2 separate regions of the Homo sapiens genome follow, and region 2 is linked to region 1. The links come from fine-mapping of genetic effects on gene expression. A gene starts in region 1. The other region holds a variant in brackets. All regions are shown on one strand. Distances are from middle to middle.

Region 1 (5,362 bases):
TTGACCTCCTCTTTCCCAATTAGTACATTTCCATTAACTGTTAATTATAGAACTTTTGTAATGCAATTAACACACATCATTTGATAGTAGTCATAAAAAGGCTGATCTTAGTATCCACTGTAAGGGACCCCGTCATTTAAATAAGAAATGTAAGTGAGAGACTCTGTTTAGAGAGAATTTTCTAGTGGTCTTCTGAGCCTGCCAGAGAGATGAGACCTCTCAGGCAAGGGCACAGTGCAGGGACCCACAGATAGTAGGGAGTCACCTGTTAAACACTTTCAATCTTAGCTCTTCAAGAGCCAAATAAGCCACTTGGTATTATGGGACAGGCATATAAAAAGGAAAAACGTGTCTTGTTTACAGAGATTCCAAACAATGAAGACGTGGCACAGCTTAAAAATAAACACTGAAGAGAAGCACCCTACTGGGCTCCACAGAACTGACCTTAAGGGAATTATGACCCTAAGGCTGTAGAAAAACTCACAGTATCAACAGCAGAACCTGCCAACTTCACCGCGAACAAAACGGGAGCCAATGCCCATTCCAATCATTTCCTCCTTACATGAAGAAACCCCAGCACCCTCCAAGGCCCAACCGATGATCCGCACGTCCTAGACAAGCCTTTGCGAGGCTCACATATGCACATGCAACATGGGCTGGGCTGTCTGGTAACCATGGGTACGGCTGGGCAGTCAATCACAAATTATCTTATTTGTGCCCTGTCTTCTCACCACAGCACAATGAGCTCTGCTTGACATAGTCTGAATTCAATCAACTACTAATAAGGGACAGCCTCTGGTGGAAAGCCTGAAAAAATTCAAGATACGCGCTTTTCCAAAACAAGAGGTATCTTATGAAACTTGCTGAAACAAGTCTACAAGAACAGACATCTCCTCCCCATGTACACAGCAAGTAGGAAAACAAGTGTGCATTAAGCAGGGAGTTTCACAACAGGGCTGTGTCTGTCTTCCTGGGTGACACTTCTGAGATGTCTATGCCGTATTTAAAATAGTGAAATAGTCACAGACACACATACACTAACAGCAACCCAAAGGGCCACTAAAGAGCCCTAGGCTCCAGGTAAACGAGTTGGCAACACCTGATTTAAAGGAAGGAGCTGGAATAATCTCTCAAGTTCCCCAGTGAACTTGTCTCCAGGACTGGGACAGGGGCCACCTTGGTCACTGCTGTATCCCTCGTGCTAACAGTAAGCAATGAATGCTCATTTAAAAAAAGACTGTATTTACTCCTTAAAAGGCACTGCTAAGGACCTTTCTCAGAACTGTATTTCAACCAAGTCATATGTGGCCCTACGGAAACCATGGAACACGGGGTATATAGCAAAGTTATGTGAATATACCGAAAAGACGTTCCCATCTGCCTTTCCCTCCTCTAAGTCCCTGAGTACACTAGGCTCAAATCTCATTCCATCAGCAGACAGATGACACGGATATCGAAGGCCCAGGCACAAGTTAAAGAGTATTTTCAATAACTGGTAACGCAGTAAGCTACTGCTACCTGTGGCCCAAACTCTAAACTTATATATTAAAGTCCTTTATTTAGAGCAGAAAAGCCGGCCTTGACCTCCACTGTCTCAGAACCGCGAGAAGGAGCCCCGGACGCCGCAGCGGAGGCAGCACGAGCACCCCTCCCGCCGAGCGCAAGAGCGGGCCCTTTCGGCTTCCGGGGTCACTGGAAGGCAAAATGTGTCACAAATACGGCCAGTACAAACCAACGCAACAAACTATTCCACAAAAAAACTGAAAACCAGCGCGGGGAGGTAAGGACACACTCTTCAGAAAAGCGAATCCGGGCTCTTCGCGCTTCCTGCAGCGCCAGCCGCCCCTGCAGTGCCGGAATCCCCCGAAGGCACGCCAGAAGCTAAGCCGGCCACCCCGACCGCACCCAAGGCCCGGGAGGAAGCGCCGAGGTCCCCGAGAATGCCTAGGGAAACCAGCTGCGCTTACAAGCCAGCTACGCAGCCCCCGAGCCCCGGGCCGCACTCGCCCAGGCCAGCCCTGCGCTCTTCCCCGCGAGCGGCCGCCCCGACTCCCACCCTCGGAACCGTTCCAGCCGCGACCACCGAGTGCTCGCCAGTCCCCTCGACCTCACGCAGCCCACCAGGGCCGGCGTCTGAGGCCCGCGCCCCAGGCCGCGGCGGCTCTGACCGGCCCCGCCCGCTCGCCCGCCCGCCCGCCCGCTCCTTCCCTTCCGCGGCCGCCATCTTCTCGGCGGGAGCGGCCTGTGCGGGATCCGCGGCTCTCGCCAGCCGGGCTCCGATGCCGGCCCCGCCCCGCTCCCGAGGGCGGCCCAAGCGGCGGCCGGCTCTTCTACCCGGCGCCCGGGACGCCACTTACCGCAGGCCGCAGGCCTCTAGGGTCTCGCAGCCATTTCCCCGAACGCCGCGGAGTGGGCGGACGGCCACCGAGATGGCGCGGGGCTAGAGCGGCGCCCCCGCGCGGCGGGCGGAGGACGAGACCGGCCACCGAGACGCTGCGGGGCTAGAGCGGAGCCCGGGCTGCGAAGCCCGGCCCCGGACTGCGCGCATGCGCCCGTCTTTCATACCTGCACTCCGGACGCGCCCTTCGGGTCTGCACTGACAATGACTTGCTTGCATCCTTTGTGGACACCTTATTTCCCCGACTCCAAGAGTGAAAGCTGGGGCAGTGCCCTTGCGGGGATCCCTCGGAACAGCCCGGGCAGGGCGCAGGCGGAACGTGGATGCTAGCCCCGAGGGACTGCACTCCGCCAGGATTTCGCTCTTAAGACCGATAAACCCTTCAAGTCGGTGGGGATAGAAAGCTCCTGGGCTAAATTTGTAAGAGGTGTAGGGGGGCGGGGACAGGGGATAAAAGAAGAAAAGGCCCAGGTTTTCTCTTCCAGATTGTGTTTCTCAAAACGCAGGCCCCTGACGGCCTCGGCTGGGAATGGCAGCGAGGGGCGAGGTCCAGGTGTGGGCGGGGTTTCTCTCCAACTTGAAGACCCTACCTGCTGCCTCCCCACCCCAAGCTCGGCTCCAGAAACCAGGAGCGTGGGGGTGGGGGGGAGAGAAAGGAGCACAGCGAGGAAGGGAGGCGGGCACGCTGGACCTCTAGGCCCCAGGGACCTTGGCGGTGTGGTCCCAAAGCTCTGCCTCCTCCCACCATGTCAATCCTACACTCAGAACTACTGACCAGTAGCTAGAACTCAAAGAACGCATGGACATGTTTGCCCACAGGGGTTGGAGGGAAAGATTAGACACTTACTATCAAGAGAGGGGAAAGTGAGGTATGGTAGATGTCAACCTTCCATGTGGATTTTCTTCAGTTCGCTCAATAGTAACTAGAGTGACACTCTATCACCTGTCTGTCCCCAGATACTGCAGGAAAGAGACTGGGAGGGGGCAGGAGGGGCAGCTGTTGCCTCGAGGCACCATGGGCACTGGCCACTTGCTCCGAGGGCAGGGACCTGGGGGGGGTGGAGGTGGCCCCATTACTTGTTTCTGCTTCTGTGAACAGTGATACGCTACCTGGAAGCATGGACCATCTAGCCTTTGGCGTTGGCCCTGGCCAAGAGTAAAAGGGGCCCAGAGTGCCGTAAAGCTGCCCCTAATACAGAGGCTTCTGCGATGCTTCCATGGATGAACCAGGGGCTTTGAGGCAGGTGTGCTTTTTAATAATACCGCTGAAGATTACAGGGTCTGCTAGTTTCTGAGGCAGACTTAGTTTTCTTCAAAGGAATACAACGCAGCTTGTTTTTGCTGGTGTGGCCCATTAGGACCACATTAATAGAATCTGGCAGGGATGGGCTTGACAGTCTTCCATCTTGAGTGTGATCTCAGGTTGCAAAGAGGGCTTTTTGCTCTCAGACATGGGGTAGTGGGAAGCTTAGAAGACAGACGGGGTTGAGACCACCTTTAACAAGCAGTGAGATCTTGGGCAAGCTCTCTGTTAAAGGAGGGCTCACATGCTGAGGCCCAGGTGAAGACCACATGAGGCCTCCCTACAAGAGGCTCTCTCTAAATCCAACTGGTATGGGGGAACCTCAGCCCAGTCTCTTTAGCTGAGGATCTTTAAACCAGCCACAATTTGTTTCTGCAAGACGGTGAGATTTTTAAGAGATTTTAACTCTTGGGTACAGTTTCACGCTGGGCACTCAGGAGAGATAGATGGAAAGGCACTAAGGGAATAGAAAGAGTGGACAAGGCGGCTCAGGGACAAGAGAACCAAGAGGAAGAAAAAGGCAGGAAAACATGAGGAAAGGGAACCCTCACTCAGCTCACCGCAGTGCTCAGCGATACGCAGAATGCCTTCCTTCCTGCAAGTCCAGAGGATACTGGAACCTGCCTCTCGTTCTCATCTCCCCCGCCCCCCAGCAGAAGCTGGCTCGGCTGTGGAGGCCTGGCCAGACTATCCACTCTGGCCTTCCCCACCTACAAGGTGACGAAGTCAGCTTTATCCCAGCTTACCTGCCGTCACTATTCCTGGGAGCTGCCCTCCCTGGTGAGAAAGGCATTTGGAGAATCTACAGTCTGGGTATTTGAATTTGAACTCCACTAGCAAAAGAATACTTTTTCCTAACCGAATTTATTTTAAAAGTAAAACCCAAAGGAGGAAACAAACTCTTCAGTTGTTTCAATAAATTGTTCCTTAAATATCCCCAATTCACAAACAAAACCCCACAAGTAGCACCGATTTACAACAGGATGTGGCCCAGAAAGCAGGAAGGGGGCCAAGAGCGCTCCAGCAGGAAGCTTAATAGGTGGTCCATGGAGAAAAACACGATGGGTGCATCACAAATAGGTGTAAACAGTACACTTTTGTAATGTGTAGACACCAGTTTCTGCAACCCCCATGCCACGCAAAGTTTCAGGGAAAGTCTTTGAAAGTACAATCCGGAAAACTCAGCAATTCTTAAAAAAAAATGGCTTTCCGCTGTTATAAGCCTCCTTCCTAAGACTCAGGGTCCGCAGCAGAATACCCTGACCCAAAATAAAAATACTATGACAAAAATACTCCAGGAGGCAGCCGGCTTTACTTCGTTTAAAGCCGGATTTCGCTTAGTCCCGTGAAAGCGAAGGAGCACCAGCGCTTCCTGATTCCGCACAGTTCTCTCGGCAGAGACGGCCCGTCCTCTCCAAGAACCGGAAGCCGGACAGCGTCAGGACGTTTTATTCTTCTCACCTGGGATTCAGAGAGGCAGCGGCCAAGGACAGGGCCCCCGCCGAGGCCACCGGGCAGCGTCCAGGTCTCGGCCTTTGGGAGGGGAGCAGCGGGGGAGGGGCACGGGGAGGGGCGAGGGCGGGGCGCGCCTGGGCCTCGGCGCTGGGCTCCTCCTCTGCCCGCTCCGGGGGACACCCACAGGATTCTTGCAGACCTCTGCC
Region 2 (5,362 bases), 50 kb before region 1:
TCTAGCGGTGACGCCAGCGTCTGGGAAGACGCCCGTTGCCAGACGGACCGTGGTCTAGCGGTAGCCTCAGTGTCACGGAAAAACACCCGCTACTTAGCAGACGGGGAAAGGGAGTCTCCCTTTCCCCGGGGGAGTTTAGAGAAGACTCTACTCCTCCACCTCTTGCGGAGGGCCTGACATCAGTCAGGCCCGCCCGCAGTTATCCGGAGGCCTAACCGTCTCCCTGTGATGCTGTGCTTCAGTGGTCACGCTCCTAGTCCGCCTTCATGTTCCATCCTGTGCACCTGGCTCTGCCTTCTAGATAGCAGCAGCAAATTAGTGAAAGTACTGAAAGTCTCTGATAAGCAGAAATAATGGCGTAAGCGGTCTCTGTCTCTCCCTCTCTGTCTCTGCCTTGGCTGCCAGGCAGGGGAGGGCCCCCTGTCCAGTGGACACGTGACCCACGTGACCTTACCTATCACTGGAGATGACTCACACTCCTTACCCTGCCCCTTTTGCTTTGTATCCAATAAATAACAATGCAGCCAGACATTCGGAGCCACTACCGGTCTCTGCGCATTGGTGGTAGTGGTTCCCCGGGCCCAGCTGTCTTTTCTTTTATCTCTTTGTCTTGTGTCTTTATTTTTACACTCTCTCGTCACCACACACAGGGAGAAGCCCACCGACCCTGTGGGGCTGGTCCCTACAGGGGCATGTGGGAAGATCCCAGTGAAGCTGAGGACCACGAGCCCTGCAAGTCCATTGGGATCTGCCGGTGAACTCCGCAGGTCGTCTTTGAAGGCACATGTGGCTCTTCTGCCACTGCCTGGGGAGCTGAGACCCCTTTGCCCAAAGACCCTCAAGTGCCTTCCCTAGGGAGCTGCCCTGTAAGGTGCCGCCGTCCTGCCCGGGACTCACCACCACCTCTGTGTTCCTTCTAGACCTAGATCCAGACTGGAGTTCCAGCAGGCCCCAAAAGAGAAAGTGTGAGGTGTGGCCTACAAATATGTTTCCCTACGAAAACCTGCGGAAAATGTGTGGAAATCGATGTTGAGAGTGCGGGATCTGGGTGGGAGGAATATAAGCTTGCGTAAGTGGACAGGGACTCAGATACGAGATTCTGGATTTGATGCGTTGGAGGGAACGGCTGGGAGTGACCCACCCCCCACCCCCATTTTCTTCATCAGTCACCGAAACTTTCGCCCCACAGGTAGCTGACCCTAAATTCAGTGAAATCCAGAACTTTCCTGGCACACTGGAGAGGACGGCAGAACGCTGGGATGGATTTATCGTGCAAGACCAGCTTGATGTCCTTAGGGCTTGGAGGTCACCCCTTCACGAGGATTGTGAGGAGTGAATTCATCGGGGAGCCCCGCACCCTCACCTGCACCCTCACCCCCACCCCCACCCCCACCCCCACCCCCACCCGCACCCCCACCCCCACCCTCCCCCCCACCCGCACCCGCACCCCCACCCTCACCCGCACCCCCACCCTCACCCCCACCCTCACCCCCACCCTCACCCCCACCCCCACCCTCACCCGCACCCCCACTCGCACCCGCACCCCCACCCTCACCCGCACCCCCACCCTCACCCCCACCCTCACCCCCACCCTCACCCCCACCCCCACCCTCACCCGCACCCTCACTCGCACCGCACCCTCACTGGCACCCTCACCCACACCGCACCCACACCCACATCGGGGAAGAGCTCCATGATCATTCTTTTCTGTAGGCGAAAAACTGCGGCGGGAACTGCTGCCATGCAGCTGGGCTCCCAATGCAGTGGGGATGGTGGCGCTCTGGGCTGGCGGGAGCTATCCTGCCGGACGTGATTCCCAGCACAGCCGTGAGCGGCAGCAGAGGCGCAGTCATCTGACCCACATAGTTCCTGCGTTGCCTGATGGGCGCAGCTTCCCTAGAACTGAAAAAAAAGGACATCCTGCCAAAGGCGTCCCCGTTCTGTGCTGGCAGAAAGGCTGTAGGTCCGAGAGCAGGAGTCCTGCGCTCTGACTGGAAGCCCCAACACAGAGTCCGGGGCCCTCGGCCAAGTTCCAGACTCTGGACAGACCCAGGCCCCTGGAATGAAGGACAGACTGAGTCTCCGAGAGGAAGGGGCCCTGCTAAATGCCAAAAACATGCAGCTAATCTTCCCACCGCCCCTTCCCAAAGGAATCTTCCTCTGTTTATCAGGAGTCTGTGCAACGGGAATGGGAAATAATCAGGCCTTTTAGGAATTACTAGACCCTGGAGCTGAAAGGACATTCATTTCAGGAGGCCCAGATGCCAGGCAGAGCTGTGGTTTATGGAGGCGGACGACGGAGTTGGTTCAGGTTTTCCTCTGAGGAGGCCCAGTGAGCCTCCCGGCCTCCTGTGGAACAGACATACTCAGCCAATGGCAGGGTCCCCACATGGTCCCCTGAGCCCTGGAGTGAGGTCGGCTGGGAGCAGCAGAGCAGCCGGAGGAGGAGGAGCAAACCCCAGGCCACAGCGTGCTCCTGGAGGGACCCCGATTTTGTCAAAATTTAGATGCAGAGAGAAAAAGATTAAGGAAAATACCAAATTAACGACAGCAGTGACTGCTGGGTGTGACGTTTTGGGCAGGCTTGGTTCTTCTCCCTTTTGCTAGGTGTCCCACAGGAAGACGGACCCAGCATGTGGGGACCTGCACCCAGCCAGTCTCGCCCTGGCTCAGCCTGTTCACTGGCGCTGCCCTGCCACTGAGGGCTGAGGTCACTGTCCGTCTGGGCATGTCTCATGTGGTCTTT[C/T]CTTTTCTCCCCTTCTGGTTAGGCCCCCTGAGCTCAGCCACAGCCACGATCCCCACTGCCGCCTCCTCCCTGGGACTCGCTGATGCCTGGTGTGGGGAGGGTGCTGGCTGCTTTGGGTGTTACCCCCCGTTGGAGGCCCCCGTGCCGAGTTCTCGAGTGAGATGGCTCTTTCCATTTTCCCCCGACAGCTGCCTCGGCCTCTGTGCTAGAACAGGGAGCTACAGCTCAGTGACCCTGTGGTGCCTTGTGGGCCTGTGGGTGCCAGGGCTCCGGGGCCTGGGCCTTTTCCTGCTTGGTGTGGCTGACCGGGACGCGGCCGACCCCAGGGGCATACTGGAGCTAGGTCTTCCTCGCCATGTTTCCACAGTGAGCCCTTTGGCTGCACAGGTCACGGTCTGGAGCTGTTGGAGGAGGCTGCTCAGAGCTGTTGCTGCCCCACCAGACACTTGGCCAAGGGGCCTGCACCGGTCTGCGCGGGAACGTCCCACCGGCGTCTGCTCATGGCTGGGCTGTGGACCCATACGCTTGTTCGGAAGCCAAGCTCTGGCCCACAGGCGACCAGAGGAAGCTCGCAGGCCAGGCGCCAGCTCCCCGAGCCTGTCCCTGCAGCCGCGCTGTGTGCAGGCACGTGGGCCACCGCGTCTCCTCCACTGGCACTGCTGGGTCTGGGCCGCCAAGCCCACCTGCCCACCTGCATCCTCAGCAGCAGCACGCCCCGCAGTCGGCGGGTGCACACTCTGCTGCAGCCTGGATGGGCTGGGGCCTCGGGGCTCACTCCCCAACCATGAGACTCCTTCACCGCAGTTGAGGCTGTTGCAGTGGTCTCGGGCTCCCACTCAGCCCCAGGAGAGGGTCTGAAGGGGGTGAGTCCCTCCTCCCGACCTTCCTGCCCATCGTCTCCAGAGCTGGATGGTGCTGGGTCCCCACAGGGAGCGAGACAGCTGCCCCGTGACGGAAGGATGTGGGGACCCGCACCCGGCCGGTCTCACCCTGGGCTCAGCATGAGTTCAGGGAGGGGTCCAAAGGGCACTCCTGCCCACGCCCAGGCAAACCAGCAACAAGAAACTGGGTGGCCAGGGCGTCCGTGCACGACCCCAAACTTCTCCGCGTTAGAAAAAGGCTGATGAAGACCCGAGACAGAAACTTCCTGTAGCTGTTTATTCTACTGCGAGTAACAAAACCTAGGTCGTTCCATGTTCTCATGTACAGTGATATAAGCCTCCGCAATATAAAATACAATGTACAGGAATCTCTATCAAGTAAACTAAAGAAACACACTTGATTTTTACATTTGTGTATTTAAATTAGAAAAATTTGCTTTATATGTTAAACAAACAAAACCTTCTCATCGTACTAGATGTTGGAACGTGACACCTACTTTAATGTAATTTAACCTATGGACACTTGGCTTTCAACACCAAACATCTCAAACTGATACATTCTCAATGTTTTCTTAACTTAAAAAATCTGTGCTATAAAGTGAAAAATCTGTAGTGACGTACAATGGAATAACAGACTCCAAAGAACAAGTGAAGTTCTTTAATTTTACATCTGTAAAAGTTTATGAAAATATAAAAAATTATCAAAGTGTATTTGTACAAATAAATTAGCCAGATTTTTTTACTTCACACTTCAGAAGTACTCGAAAAATACACGACAAGCAAGAGACTGTTTCACAGTGAACAGCTTCCTGTCTCATTTGCAGTTCTTGAGCTAGTGATCACTAGTTCCCGTCTCAGACTTTACACAAGTCTTGTTCCACGTTCAAGGACAAACTTTTACATGTATCGTCTGACAAATACCAGTTTGGGGCCGAGCGTACTTTTCCCGGGATACAGAAGAACTGCTCAGAAGGCGAAACTGGACCAACAAAACTCCTGATTATTCAAATCAAGGACTCCTCCCTGCCCCCAAAGTACACTTAATTGGTTTGTTACTTTTTTTAGGCTGGTAAAACTTAACATTTTTCAATAAATTGTTATTTAAAATGCAACAATTATACTAGGACAGATGTTGCTTTAAATCATGTTTTGGAAAAAATTGATAAGGTGATATATAAAATCTGAGCACGCTAAGAAATGTGTTTCTGTTTCCCAGTTGAAAATTGTAATTCCAATTTTATGACAAAAGAAAGATGCATTTGTAAGGTTTGTGTTTCTCAAGACTCCAGATACAAGCTACTAAGACTTCTCCCGTAGCCGCAGGGTGGACGCCTGCAGGTCACGCCCACACCGGCCTCCGGGGCGGCGGCTAAGACCTGTAAAAGCAGCTTTTGGAAACACAAACGGATGAGATGTCAGTGAAGGTATGGCTCTAGGGTCCAACGAAACTCCCTTAAAATTTACAATAAAGTTATTGGAAAAGATAACTATGATCTGAAAAGCAATATGCTCCGTAGGCAATTTCCCATTTCTTTTAATTTTAAATGGAAATATTAAAGTTTAGTTTTTTTAAAAAAGCATCAGAATTGTAAAGATGTGAAATCTTGTAAGAAACCATTTACACAAAATTACAGTAATGTTTAAGTCCAGAATATTCTATCCTGAATCTAAGATCGTGGCTATTTCAAAAGCTATTTGTTCAACGCATCTTACGAACGTGGCTTTAAAAAGGGTC

Alleles and levels. Positions count from the first base shown, and alleles are read on the strand shown. Sizes are in standard deviations (SD) of each study's normalised expression.
In carriers of allele C in region 2, the expression in hypothalamus of the gene that starts at base 2,431 in region 1 tends to be higher than with T alone (small effect, 0.33 SD a copy in GTEx).

What was found. PIP is the estimated chance that this variant, and not a neighbour inherited with it, causes the effect.
Region 2: its variant is the best candidate, but not a certain one, in a credible set for the expression of DIDO1 in hypothalamus (GTEx, PIP 0.78).

What each region holds. Positions count from the first base shown.
Region 1 is chr20:62,924,075-62,929,436 of GRCh38, forward strand. It overlaps DIDO1 (death inducer-obliterator 1), which reads right to left and starts at 2,431. Exons shown (of 16, transcript NM_001193369.2): 1 at 2,365-2,431. RefSeq lists enhancers at 1,307-1,920, 1,529-1,578, 1,921-2,534, 3,417-4,265, 5,042-5,131 and silencers at 2,019-2,108, 2,179-2,618, 5,262-5,311.
Region 2 is chr20:62,873,853-62,879,214 of GRCh38, forward strand. DIDO1 (death inducer-obliterator 1) reads right to left here. Exons shown (of 16, transcript NM_001193369.2): 16 at 3,891-5,362. It overlaps LOC105372717 (a long non-coding RNA gene), which reads left to right. Exons shown (of 4, transcript XR_936989.4): 2 at 921-1,069; 3 at 1,190-1,325; 4 at 2,935-5,114. Among named protein-coding and RNA genes, the nearest start is that of SNORA117, 6.4 kb to the right of the region's middle. RefSeq lists enhancers at 1,482-2,136, 2,137-2,790. The variant C/T (reference allele first, on the strand shown) is at 2,747.